Regions from separate parts of the Homo sapiens genome. Here region 2 is linked to region 1. Evidence: fine-mapped expression QTL. A gene starts in region 1. The other region holds a variant in brackets. All regions are shown on one strand. Distances are between the middles of the regions.

Evidence for each region. PIP is the estimated chance that this variant, and not a neighbour inherited with it, causes the effect.
Region 2: its variant is the best candidate, but not a certain one, in a credible set for the expression of AZIN1 in whole blood (INTERVAL, PIP 0.78).

The regions. Positions count from the first base shown.
Region 1 is chr8:102,860,990-102,866,365 of GRCh38, forward strand. AZIN1 (antizyme inhibitor 1) reads right to left here and starts at 3,174. Exons shown (of 12, transcript NM_148174.4): 1 at 2,818-3,174. It overlaps MAILR (macrophage interferon regulatory lncRNA), which reads left to right and starts at 3,282. Exons shown (of 3, transcript NR_126339.1): 1 at 3,282-3,634. RefSeq lists enhancers at 1,318-2,051, 3,520-4,252 and silencers at 2,401-2,630, 3,291-3,640.
Region 2 is chr8:102,883,142-102,888,517 of GRCh38, forward strand. All of the region lies in intron 2 of MAILR (macrophage interferon regulatory lncRNA), which reads left to right. It overlaps LOC124902000 (a long non-coding RNA gene), which reads right to left. Exons shown (of 2, transcript XR_007061041.1): 2 at 4-4,006. Among named protein-coding and RNA genes, the nearest start is that of MAILR, 22 kb to the left of the region's middle. RefSeq lists enhancers at 1,022-1,221, 1,872-2,061 and a silencer at 2,672-2,721. The variant T/C (reference allele first, on the strand shown) is at 2,671.

The sequences.
Region 1 (5,376 bases):
AAATACAATGTGGTAACTTGGATTCTGGAACAGAAAAAGACATTAAAGAAAAATTGGCGAAATCCAAATAAAAGTCTCGAACGTTTCATAGTGCCAAAGTCAGTTTCTTAGTTTTAACAAATGTACTGTAATAACGTAAGATGTTACTAATAACTGGGTGGGAAGTATGAAGAAACTGTATCTTTGTGACTTTGCTGCGCAACTAAGATACTCCAAAATAAAGTTTATTTTTCATTATTATTATTATTTTTTGAGATGAAGTCCCGCTGCTCTTGTCCCCCAGGCTGGAGTGCCCTGGTGAGATCTCGGCTCACTGCAACCTCTGCCTCCCCAGTTCAAGCGATTCTCCTGACTCAGCCTCCCGAGGAGCTGGGATTACAGGAGCCAGCCACCACGCCCGGCTAATTTTTGTATTTTTAGTAGAGATGGAGTTTCAGCATGTTAGCCAGGCTGGTCTCCTGACCTCAGGCAATCCACCCGCCTCAGCCTCCCAAAGTGCTGGGATTACAGGCTTGAGCCACCGCGCCCGGCCTAATAAAGTTTATTTTTAAAAAAAACAACCAAGGGACAGTCACCTAATGGGCTACTACTCAGCAACACAAATAATCTACTGATAATCTACAGATAAAGACAACAGGGATGAATATTAAAAATGTGCTGAGTTAAAAGAAGCCTTTTATACCAAAGAATGCATACTGTATGATTCCATTCATGTGGAAAGTCTGGAATAGACGAAAATAATCTATGGGTTTAAAAAAAAAAATCAAGATCAGCCGGGCGCAGTGGCTCACGCTTGTAATCCCAGCACTCTGGGAGGCCGAGATGGGCGGATCATGAGGTCAGGAGTTCCAGACCAGCCTGACCAACAGTGAAACCCCTTTTCTACTAAAAATACAAAAATTAGCTGGGCGTGGTGGGCGCCTGTAATCCCAGCTGCTCGGGAGGCTGAGGAAGGAGAATCGCTTGAACCTGGGAAGCGGAGGTTGCAGTAAGCCGAGATTGTGCCACTGCACTCCAGCCTGGGCGACAGAGCTAGACTCCAAAAAAAAAAAACCAAGATCGTGGTTGGCTCTGTGGTGACTGGAAGACGATTTGAAAGGACAAGAAAAAACTTTTGAGGGTGATGGCGATGTTCTACATCTTGACAAAAGGTTTAGGTTACACAGCTGTATTTTTGTCAACGTTCATCAAATTGCATACTTAAGACTTGTGGGTTTATACTGATGTGAATTTTACCCTCTAAGATTTAAAAAATAGTAAGCGGTACTGAGCTCTATTTAATATGCACATACTAAAGTTGGAGGGGTCTCCAACTTTACTTTGAAATGCATCGACAAATAAGGTAAAATGTTAATTACAGAATCTAGGTGGAAGTATAACTCTTTTTCACCTTCTGTTTGAAAACGTATGTGATAAAACCTTGGGGGAGAAAGGCACTGACTACTCGACCTCACTTATCACCACCGATAATCATTTTCTTTTGGAGTCTTTCCTAAACTCCTTGGGGCTTATTTCTAATCATGATCAGCATCTGCACGCTCTCGTATATGTAAAAGAAATTAATGAATTATGAGGGCCTTTCTAGACAATCATGAGCCATGTTTCTGCCAACCCTTGCTGTATTTGATGTGCTTTGATGTACTTCTACTTTGTGCTTTGATGCACCTCTACATCAACCTTCGCTGAGCACAAGGCAATTCCCCCTCCTTTGAGTCCTTAGATTCCCACCCAGTCTGGGAATTCACGATAGAAACACGACGGGACACAGAACTAATATAACCAAGATGCCACCACAAAATTCAGTTAAATGTGCTGAAACATGAGGCGGTAAACTGTGTCCCCGACTGTTTCGGGTTTCTGAACCAGCAGCTTTGTCTACGAAACACACATTCAGGATACCGTGTAAGGGTTAGAACATGTTACCACCACCAACTGTTGGCAGTCAAGACAGTAGTTGATAAGCCACCCGTCTACCAATCTCCCTCTTTCTGCCTAGGAACCATGGCGCGGACGGAAAAACGAAGCCATGGTGACTAATCCTCAGGCTCCAGGAGGTGACTGGGGTGAGTGAAGGCGACTTGACCCAATCAGGAGCGCCGCAGGGGCGGAGCAGCAGCCTCGAGGCTTCCAGAAGGGGCCAAAAGCCTCTCGCTGGCTACCTGACACCGGGGCTTCCCCGCCGCCAGGCCCCAAGTGGCGTCAACTTTCCTCCACCAGAGGGGGACCGCGCTCCCCGCGCCCCCCAGGAATCCGACTTCCTCCGCAGCTGTCACCAGAGGCCGGCGCGGGGCCCGCCCCGCTCCATTCATAACCAGGACCCCAGCCGTTGCAGCCCACAGCGCCGCCCGCCCGCCGGGCTTCGGGAGGCAAAGGTGGCGGCGGCGCACCGCGGAGTAGGGGCTGCGGGACCCCGGCCCCTCAGGGCTGCGGCCGGGCCCCCTCCCCGGAAACAGCAATGCACCACGGGAGAGGGGTGGGGGCCGCACGCCGCCAGGAGGGGACGGCGACCCCCGGCGGCGAGACCCCCGCGCGCTCCCCCACTGGCACACGCCCCCTCGCCCCAACTGCTGCGGCTCCGGCTCCGCCAAGCGTCCAGCAGCCGCCCGAAGGTCCTGAGGCGCGGCCCGCCGCCCAGCCCCGCCGCCGCCGCCGCCGCCGGGGGCACAGACAGCCGCCGCCGCCATGTTCGAGGCGGCCGGCCGCGGGGCGCTGCGGGGACGTCTTAAGGGCGGCGGGGCCCAGCCGGAGCCCCCCAGCCGCCCCCCAAGGCCAGCCCCGCGTCCTGGCCCCTCCCGCGCTCCTCGGCTCGGTACTCACGTGAGATAACGGCCCAAAGAGTCGGGTAAAGCGTCTTCTCTTTTTCGGCGGAATTTTTAAAGAGGGATGTGGTTACCTTGAGCAGAAATACCCAAGGCGGCCTGGGCCATAGGCTGCGGGAACGACTTGGGGGTAAAAGCGCGGCACCGACACCAGCTGTGTGCAGCAGTGGCGGCGGCGGCCGAAGGAGAAATAGAACAGCGCAGGCAAAAGAAGAAAGGCGCGGGCTGGGTGGGAAGAGGATTCGGACTCGTCACACTGCAGAGCAGCAGAGCGAGAAAGGATGAGAAGAGGCAGAGAAGGCGACGGCAGAAGAAAAAAGGAAAAACTGCGGCCGCGATCAGAGCCTGAAAGTGTGAGAAGGCGGCGCCAGCGACGCCAGTATTTATATTAGGGGGCGTGGCCTGGTGACATCACAGCTGGCCGGGCAGCCGCGCGAGCGGGGCGGAACCCGGTTGCAGCCCGGAGAAAAGGGAGGGGGACGGAAGAGGAAGGAGGACTGAGCCCGGGAGAGAGAGGGGAGGGGTCGGCGCGCGACCGGGTCATGCAGGTGCAGACTGGCCGGTCGCTTCCCGCCCTCCAGCCACCCGCAGCTCCCCGGCAGGCGAAGGGCGGCCGCGCGGGTGTGGGCCGAGAGAGGGAGGCGGCTCGGCTGGAGCGCGCCGTCCGCCCGACCCCCGCCGCCTCTCGGGCGCCTGCGCTCACGCTGCGGGGCCCAGCGCATTGTGAGCCGGGTCGAGCTCCACGCTGGCAGCGTCTGAGAGCTGTCCTGGGCCGGAGGTGGCGCGAACCCTGTGCGGCCTAGAGTGGGCCTGGGGTAAGCCTGTCGGCGCCGCTGCCGAGCCTTCGCGTCCAGCTCCCTCCGCTTTGTGAGGCCTGTAGTTTACCCTGGGGAGTGTCCTCCCGGGCTGAGGCGCCCGCCCTCGGTGATGCGGTACTCCTTTAGGGAAGCGAGTTCCTCGTGGCCAGAAAGGACCGGCCCAGTGTCCGGGTGTTAAAAAGGGTTGTGACCACGTGAAAATGTCCTCAGTGCTCGAACGTTGCAATACGGTGCAGTGGAAATTTTTTAAAGGAATATGGCTTTTATGTCTTCATTTTTAAAAGGATTGGTGGAGTCAGTCCCAAGCAGGACCCGCGTTGGAGAGGGGATTACTGATGTTACAAGCGCACATTACTTCAATCCCCTAGGTCTCATTTTCGCGGTCGTTTTAATTTTTCTACTCCACAACAGACTTTTTTTTACTAGGGGTTCTAAGATTACCTACATAGCTTTTAATTTATTTTCATCTTTTTTAGATGCCTCAGCACTAATGATCATGATCAGAGACCCCGAGTTCTCTCGTGCTGCTACGCTTCGCAACACATAGCACAAATGGAATATGTGTTGACACACCCCTCTGAAGTTAAGATCTTTGATATTAAGACCCTGACTTTTTTCCCTTTCATTCTTCCGAACCCTCTGTGTACTTTGAGCAGCACTGTGGTTGATTAATAAATCATCAAATGTGAAAGGAAGAAAGCGACCTTCCTGTGTGGAAAAGCAGGGTATCTTGCGAGGCTGTATGAGAGAGTATTCGGTAGAATCAGGAGCTGTGGACGCATTCCTGATTTTGTTTTTCCTTATTTTGCTCGGCTATATCTTGGCTCTGTCTTTTATTTCTTCAAAGTTCTGTTCTATTCAGAACATTTGAAAACACAGCCATTCACTAGACCCTCTCTGGTGGAGGAAGAAAAACTAGAGATGAATACAATATTTGAAACCTTGCTTACAATCTAGCAGGGGAAATAAGACAGCAATACAAAATAAATTGTTGGCTGATACAAATAAAATGCTGCAAGGACCAAGTGGAGGGAAGAGATGATTGCAGCTAAGTGAGAGAAAGGCTGCTGGGGAAAGGTAAAGAGTGATTTTGAGAAAAGCCTTTCTAGACAAAGGTGCTTCCTTTTTCACCAAACTCGCCTGTTTGGTGATTTTGAGAGTAGATGTTCCAGTGTTCCAGGCAAGGGAAACGGATGAGAGAAGGCACAGAAGTGGGTGGGTTTAGAGAATTGTGAATAGCCTTTCTGGTTCCAGCATAGGGGCATGGTTGCAAATGAGATTGAAACGGTAGATTAGGGTGACATCAAGAAGACATTGGAGGCTGGGCGCAGTGGCTTACACCTGTATTCCCAGCACTTTGGGAGGCCGAGGAGGGCGGATTACCTGAGGTCGGGAATTCGAGACCAGCCTGACCAACATGGAGAAAACCCGGCTCTACTAAAACTACAAAATTAGCTGGGCATGGTGGCACATGGCTGTAATCCAGCTACTCAGGAAGCTGAGGCAGGAGAATCTCTAGAACCTGGGAGGCGGAAGTTGCAGTGAGCCGAGATCACACCATTGCACTCTCCAGTCTGGGCAACAAGAGTGAAACTGCGTCTCAAAAAAAAAAAAAAAAACAAAACAAAAAATTGGAACTTGGACTTTATTCTGGAACCATATAAACAGGAACATGATATGCTCAAAAATATGTTTTTTAAAAGATTACTCCAGCACCAGTGGGTGGGATTGAAAAGAGG
Region 2 (5,376 bases), 22 kb after region 1:
GACTATTTTCCATTTACAATGGGTTTATTGGGATGTAATCCCATCATAAGTGGAGCATCATTTGTTTTATAGAATATATATGTTGAGGAAGACATATATAAGTTAGTATAATAAGCATCATGAGATTAGTGGCCACATCTGGCATATGTAACATTTTTTCCCACAGTGCCTTGTAACACAATCTTGACCCACAGTAAGTTTTCAATATTTTTTAAAATTAAATGAATGAATGACAGAGAAAGAATATTCTGTTTAATCCCTACATTACTACCAGCATTATTTTTCTAAAATTCAGATCTGTTTGTGCTGTTCCTTGTTTAGAAATATTGTGTGACCTCACAATGCCTTTAGAATCTGGTATGAACTCCTTAGATGGTGGGCAGACCTTCCCTCCATCTGTTCTCATGCTCAGCCCCCACATGGTACAGTAGAAAAGTGGCTTCAGCTTTCATGTACCTTGGTCAAATAGGGGCAATAGACACTACCTCAAGGATTGTTGAAAGGATTAAATGAGGCCGGGCATAGTAGTTCACGCCTGTAATCCCAGCTCTTTGGGAGGCAGAGGTGGGCAGATCACTTGAGCTCAGGAGTTTGAGACCAGCTTGGCCAACATGGTGAAACCCGATGTCAACTAAAAATACATAAATTACCCGGGTGTGGTGGCACGAGCTTGTAATCCCAGCTACTCGGGAGGCTGCGACAGGAGAATCGCTTGAACCCAGGAGGTGGTGGTTGGAGGTTGCAGTGAGCCAAGATGGCACCACTGCATTCCAGCCTGGGTGACAGAGTGAGACTTGGTCTCAAAAAAAAAAAAAAAAAAGACGAAGAAGCAGCCAGGCACGGTGGCTCATGCCTGTAATCCCAGCACTTTGGGAGGCCAAGGAGGGAGATCACCTGAGGTCAGGAGTTCGAGACCAGTCTGGCCAACATGGTAAAACCCCATCTCTACTAAAAATACAAAAAATTAGCCGAGTGTGGTGGTGGGCACCTGTAGTCCCAGCTACTCAGGAGACTGAGGCAGGAGAATCACTTGAACCTGGGAGGCGGAGGTTGCAGTGAGCCGAGATTGCGCCACTGTACTCCAGCTTGGGCAATAAGAGTGAAACTCCATCTCAAAAAAAAAAAAAAAGATTAAATGAGGTGTCACCTGAAAATTTCCAGTGTATAGTTGTGATGAGTCAATTAACGTGTTTCCTTTTCACCCTCCTGCATGCTGCTCTTCAGCACACTATACTCTTCACACTTTCAGAGTGTACATGTAATTTCACTTCTCCATATTTTGTTCATGCTTTCCCCACTGCTTTGTGTGTGTCTTCCCCATCTTCCACCTCTCTATAAAAATTAAATGAAAGCTTCAAGACAAGTCTCAAATTGCACTTAGTAAAAGCTTTCTGACTCCCCCAGGAGGGCTTAATTCTTTTTTTATGCTTTCATGTAATTTTATAAGACAATTTCTAAGAAACTTTCATAGACTATCTTATATTACAGTTATTTGTGGACACAACTTGTGGACATGTATCTTAAGAGCCCAACACAATATTAGTTAAACTGAGTTGATTTTTTTGACCAGGAAATTTGGATCTTAAATCTCATAACTGAAATATATCATGAAATCATCCAAAGCATGCTCTCTCTATACATAGTTCCTCTCTTTATGTGATAACACCCAGCCTGGCAGTATAGCACCCTTGCCACCCACAGCTCTCTGGAAGGTACAGCTGTACAAGATAACATGAGGTAATGTGACTTCTGGGGATAGGTGGTGGTGGGGAAGCCCATCACTGCTTAGACCAGCGTCGAACATGCCTGACCCAGGTGGAGTAAATTATTTGCTCAGAAATGACTTGTGTGGTCCAGGTTCTCTCAGAGGAGCCAGGCTAGTTCATGAAGAAGAAGTTTAGTGTGTATTGCCAGTTGATTGTGAGTACTGGAGCTCAGTGGTCTTCCTTGTCTAGATCCAGAAAGAGCAGCCATGTTGTGCCTCACACAGGATGAAGGAGCCGAGGAAGACAGACAGAATGTGGGAGAGGCTGGAGCTGGCTGAGAAGCAAAGACAAGGGGGACACAGAGGGACAAGCCACCCTGTCCCTGAGAATTCCCCAGTTTTCTGGCCAATTTGGGTGAAACCCAGCAACTCTTTGTGTTCCATCCGTCGATACTGTGAGGTCTCTCTATACACTCAGTAAATGCTCCTTTTTACCTCACTGGACTAATGCTTTTTAGAGTCACATGCATGCTGACTTCAACAAAGCAAATTGTTTATCTGAATCAACTCTGCCGTGTACCATGTCCAGTCACTTGAATTTCTATTTCATCTTTGACTCTCCATTTGCTAATTATGACTTTGGGCAAATCTTTTGTTCACTCTGTGTATTTGTCCATTTTCACATTGCTGTAAAGATACTGTTGAGACTGGTATCTTTATAAACTGGTAATTTATAAACAAAAGACGTTTAATTGACTCACAGTTCTGCATGGCTGGAGAGGCCTCAGGAAACTTACAATCATCTTGGAAGGAAAAGGGGAAGCAGGGCGCATCTTACATGGCAGCAGGCAAGAAGAAGAGAAAGGGGTAAGTGCCAGATACTTATCAAACAAGCCCATCTCATGAGAACTCACTATCACGAGAACAGCAGGGGGAACTGCCCTCATGATCCAGTCACCTCCCAC[T/C]AGGACCCTACCTTGACATGTGGGGATTACAATTTGGATTGCAATTCAACATGAGATTTGTGTGGGGACACAGAGCCAAACCATATCACTCTGTGTCTCAGTTTCTTTAGTAGGTAAAATGCAATAATTTCATATGGTGCTTTATCAATTTCCATACATTATCTCATGTGAATTTTTAAAAAGTTCTTATGATACAGGCTAAGAATTTTTCCCCATGTTTTACAAACAAAGGAACTTTCCCAAGATCTCACAATTAAGTCCTAGTGAAATGGGACTCAAACACCAGTCTCTGACTTCTATCTACTCAGGTGGTCATCAACTCTACCTCAGAGAATATAAATTTTTTTTTAATGGTAAGTCTTTGCAGATTGATTAAGATCCCCTTGAGAATTTTTGGTAAAAGACTTTGAAGTCATAAGAGGTAACAGTGACTTCATATTATATTTGTATGAGTCCTGTTTCAAAATATATTGATAATGTGGCTGGGTGTGATAGCTCATGACTGTAATCCAGCACTTTGGGAGGCCGAGGTGGGTGGATCACCTGAGGTCAGGAGTTCAAGACCAGCCTGGCCAACATGGCGAAACCCCATCTCTACTAAAAATACAAAAATTAGCCAGGCATGGTGGCACATGCCTGTAACCCCAGCTACTTGGGAGGCTGAGGCAGGAGAATCGCTTGAACCCAGAAGGCAGAGGTTGCAGTGAGCTGAGATCATGCCATTGCACTCCAGCCTGGGCAACAAAGTGAGACTCCATCTCAAGATAGATAGATAGATAGATAGATAGATAGATAGATAGATAGATAATGAATTCTATGATAGGACCACTAGAGTGGAGATCTGTAGTTCTAATAAAGTACTTTATTTCTAAAAATATGCATAATACTTGCCTGTGTCATGGGCTTCATGAAGAATTCCAGTTACTATCTGAAAGTTTAATTGCAAGGTTTGGAGCTCAAGATGTTACTTATCCTCATGGGCAGTACCTGTTACTTCCCCACTGTAAAATATGCTAGCTCAGGTCACAAGGAACTTTGAGTGCTAGGATAGTACCCCACGGTCCAGTTCCCCAGAACTTCTTCCCAGTGTCTCCACAGCCACTCACACAGCCTGAGCAGGTCTTGCCACTGGCAGCTCTCTTCCCCTACTTCCTCCAGGCCAGGGGTTGGCCTGATTCTGCTTAGAGCCTGCATGCGGCTCCCTCAGAGCCTTGGGGTGGCCAATCTTTGCTGCTTCCCAGAACCACCTTGTACTCTTCCATGCAGAGCCCTGTTGAGTCACCATGCCTTCCTCCAGCTGCTGCCACAGACCACATGGCTTCTTTCTCAATTAACTCTGAAAGAGAAAAGTACGTTATGCAAACCAGGTGGGAGCACAAGAGCGCAACCCCCTTCCTCCCCAACACAGAGAAGCACACTGGGGCTCCTTGTGTAATTTAGAGGTTAACTAACACATCATGTTGCAATTGTGCCTATGTGAAAAAGAAATGGAAGGAGGAACCAGGTTTGGAGCTGATTCTCTGCTGCAAGGGCTTACCCTCAGTCTGACCTGTGCAGTAAGACTGAGAGAAGCACTAAGGGTATGGCTGGAAAAGATCATAATATTAAAACTATTTTACTATAATGATGATAGCTACCATTGTAGTGATATGCAATAATATTAGTAACACTGAAGTCTTTACTATATGCCATCCTGTGTGTTAAATCTTTTATGTATGTTGTGTATATAATACATGTAAAGCCTTGTTGTTGTTGTTTTTGAGACATAGTCTCACTCTGTCGCCCGGGCTGGAATGCAGTGGCGTGATCTCAGCTCGCTGCAACCTCTACCTCCCAGGTTCAAGCAATTCTCCTGCCTCAGCCTCCCGAGTAGCTGGGACTACAGGCGCCTGCCACCACGCCCAGCTAATTTTTTTGTATTTTAGTAGAGACAGGGTTTCAATGTGTTGGCCAGGCTGGTCTTGAACTCCTGAGCTCAGGCAATCTGCCTGCCTCGGCCTCCCAAAGTGCTAGAATTACAGATGTGAGCCACCGCACATAGCCCATGTAAAGCCTTTAACATAGTGCCTGGCACAAAGTAAGTGCTCAATAAAAGATAATCATAGCATTATTATTTTGTTTATCTTCACAGCCATCCTGAATTATTTGACAAGCCTTTGCTCTTCAGTCAGTCGTTCCTTTAGGGAATGTTTATTGAGCCTGTACTATTTACCCAGCACTATATATATATATATATATATATATATATATATATATATATATATATATATTTTTTTTTTTTTTTTTTTTTTGAGACAGAGTTTTGCTTTTGTTGCCCAGGCTGGAGTGCAATGGCTCGATCTCGGCTCACTGCAACCTCTGTCTCCTGGGTTCAAGCAATTCTGCAGCCCCAGCTTCTCAAGTAGCTGGGATTACAGGCGCCTGCCACCACGCCTGGCTAATTTTGTATTTTTAGTAGAGATGGGGTTTCACCATGTTGGTCAGGCTGGTCTTGAACTCCTGACCACAGGTGATCCGCCTGCCTCAGTCTCCCGAAGTCCTGGGATTACAGACATGAGCCACTCCACCCAGCCTTCCGAGCACTATATTAGGCGCTGGGGATACTTAGAAGAGTGAATGCCCTTTCGGACATGGGTTCCAATCTGGCTTAACCACTATCTTTCTGGGTAACTTTGAGCATGCTTCTTAAGCTTTCTGAGCCTGAGT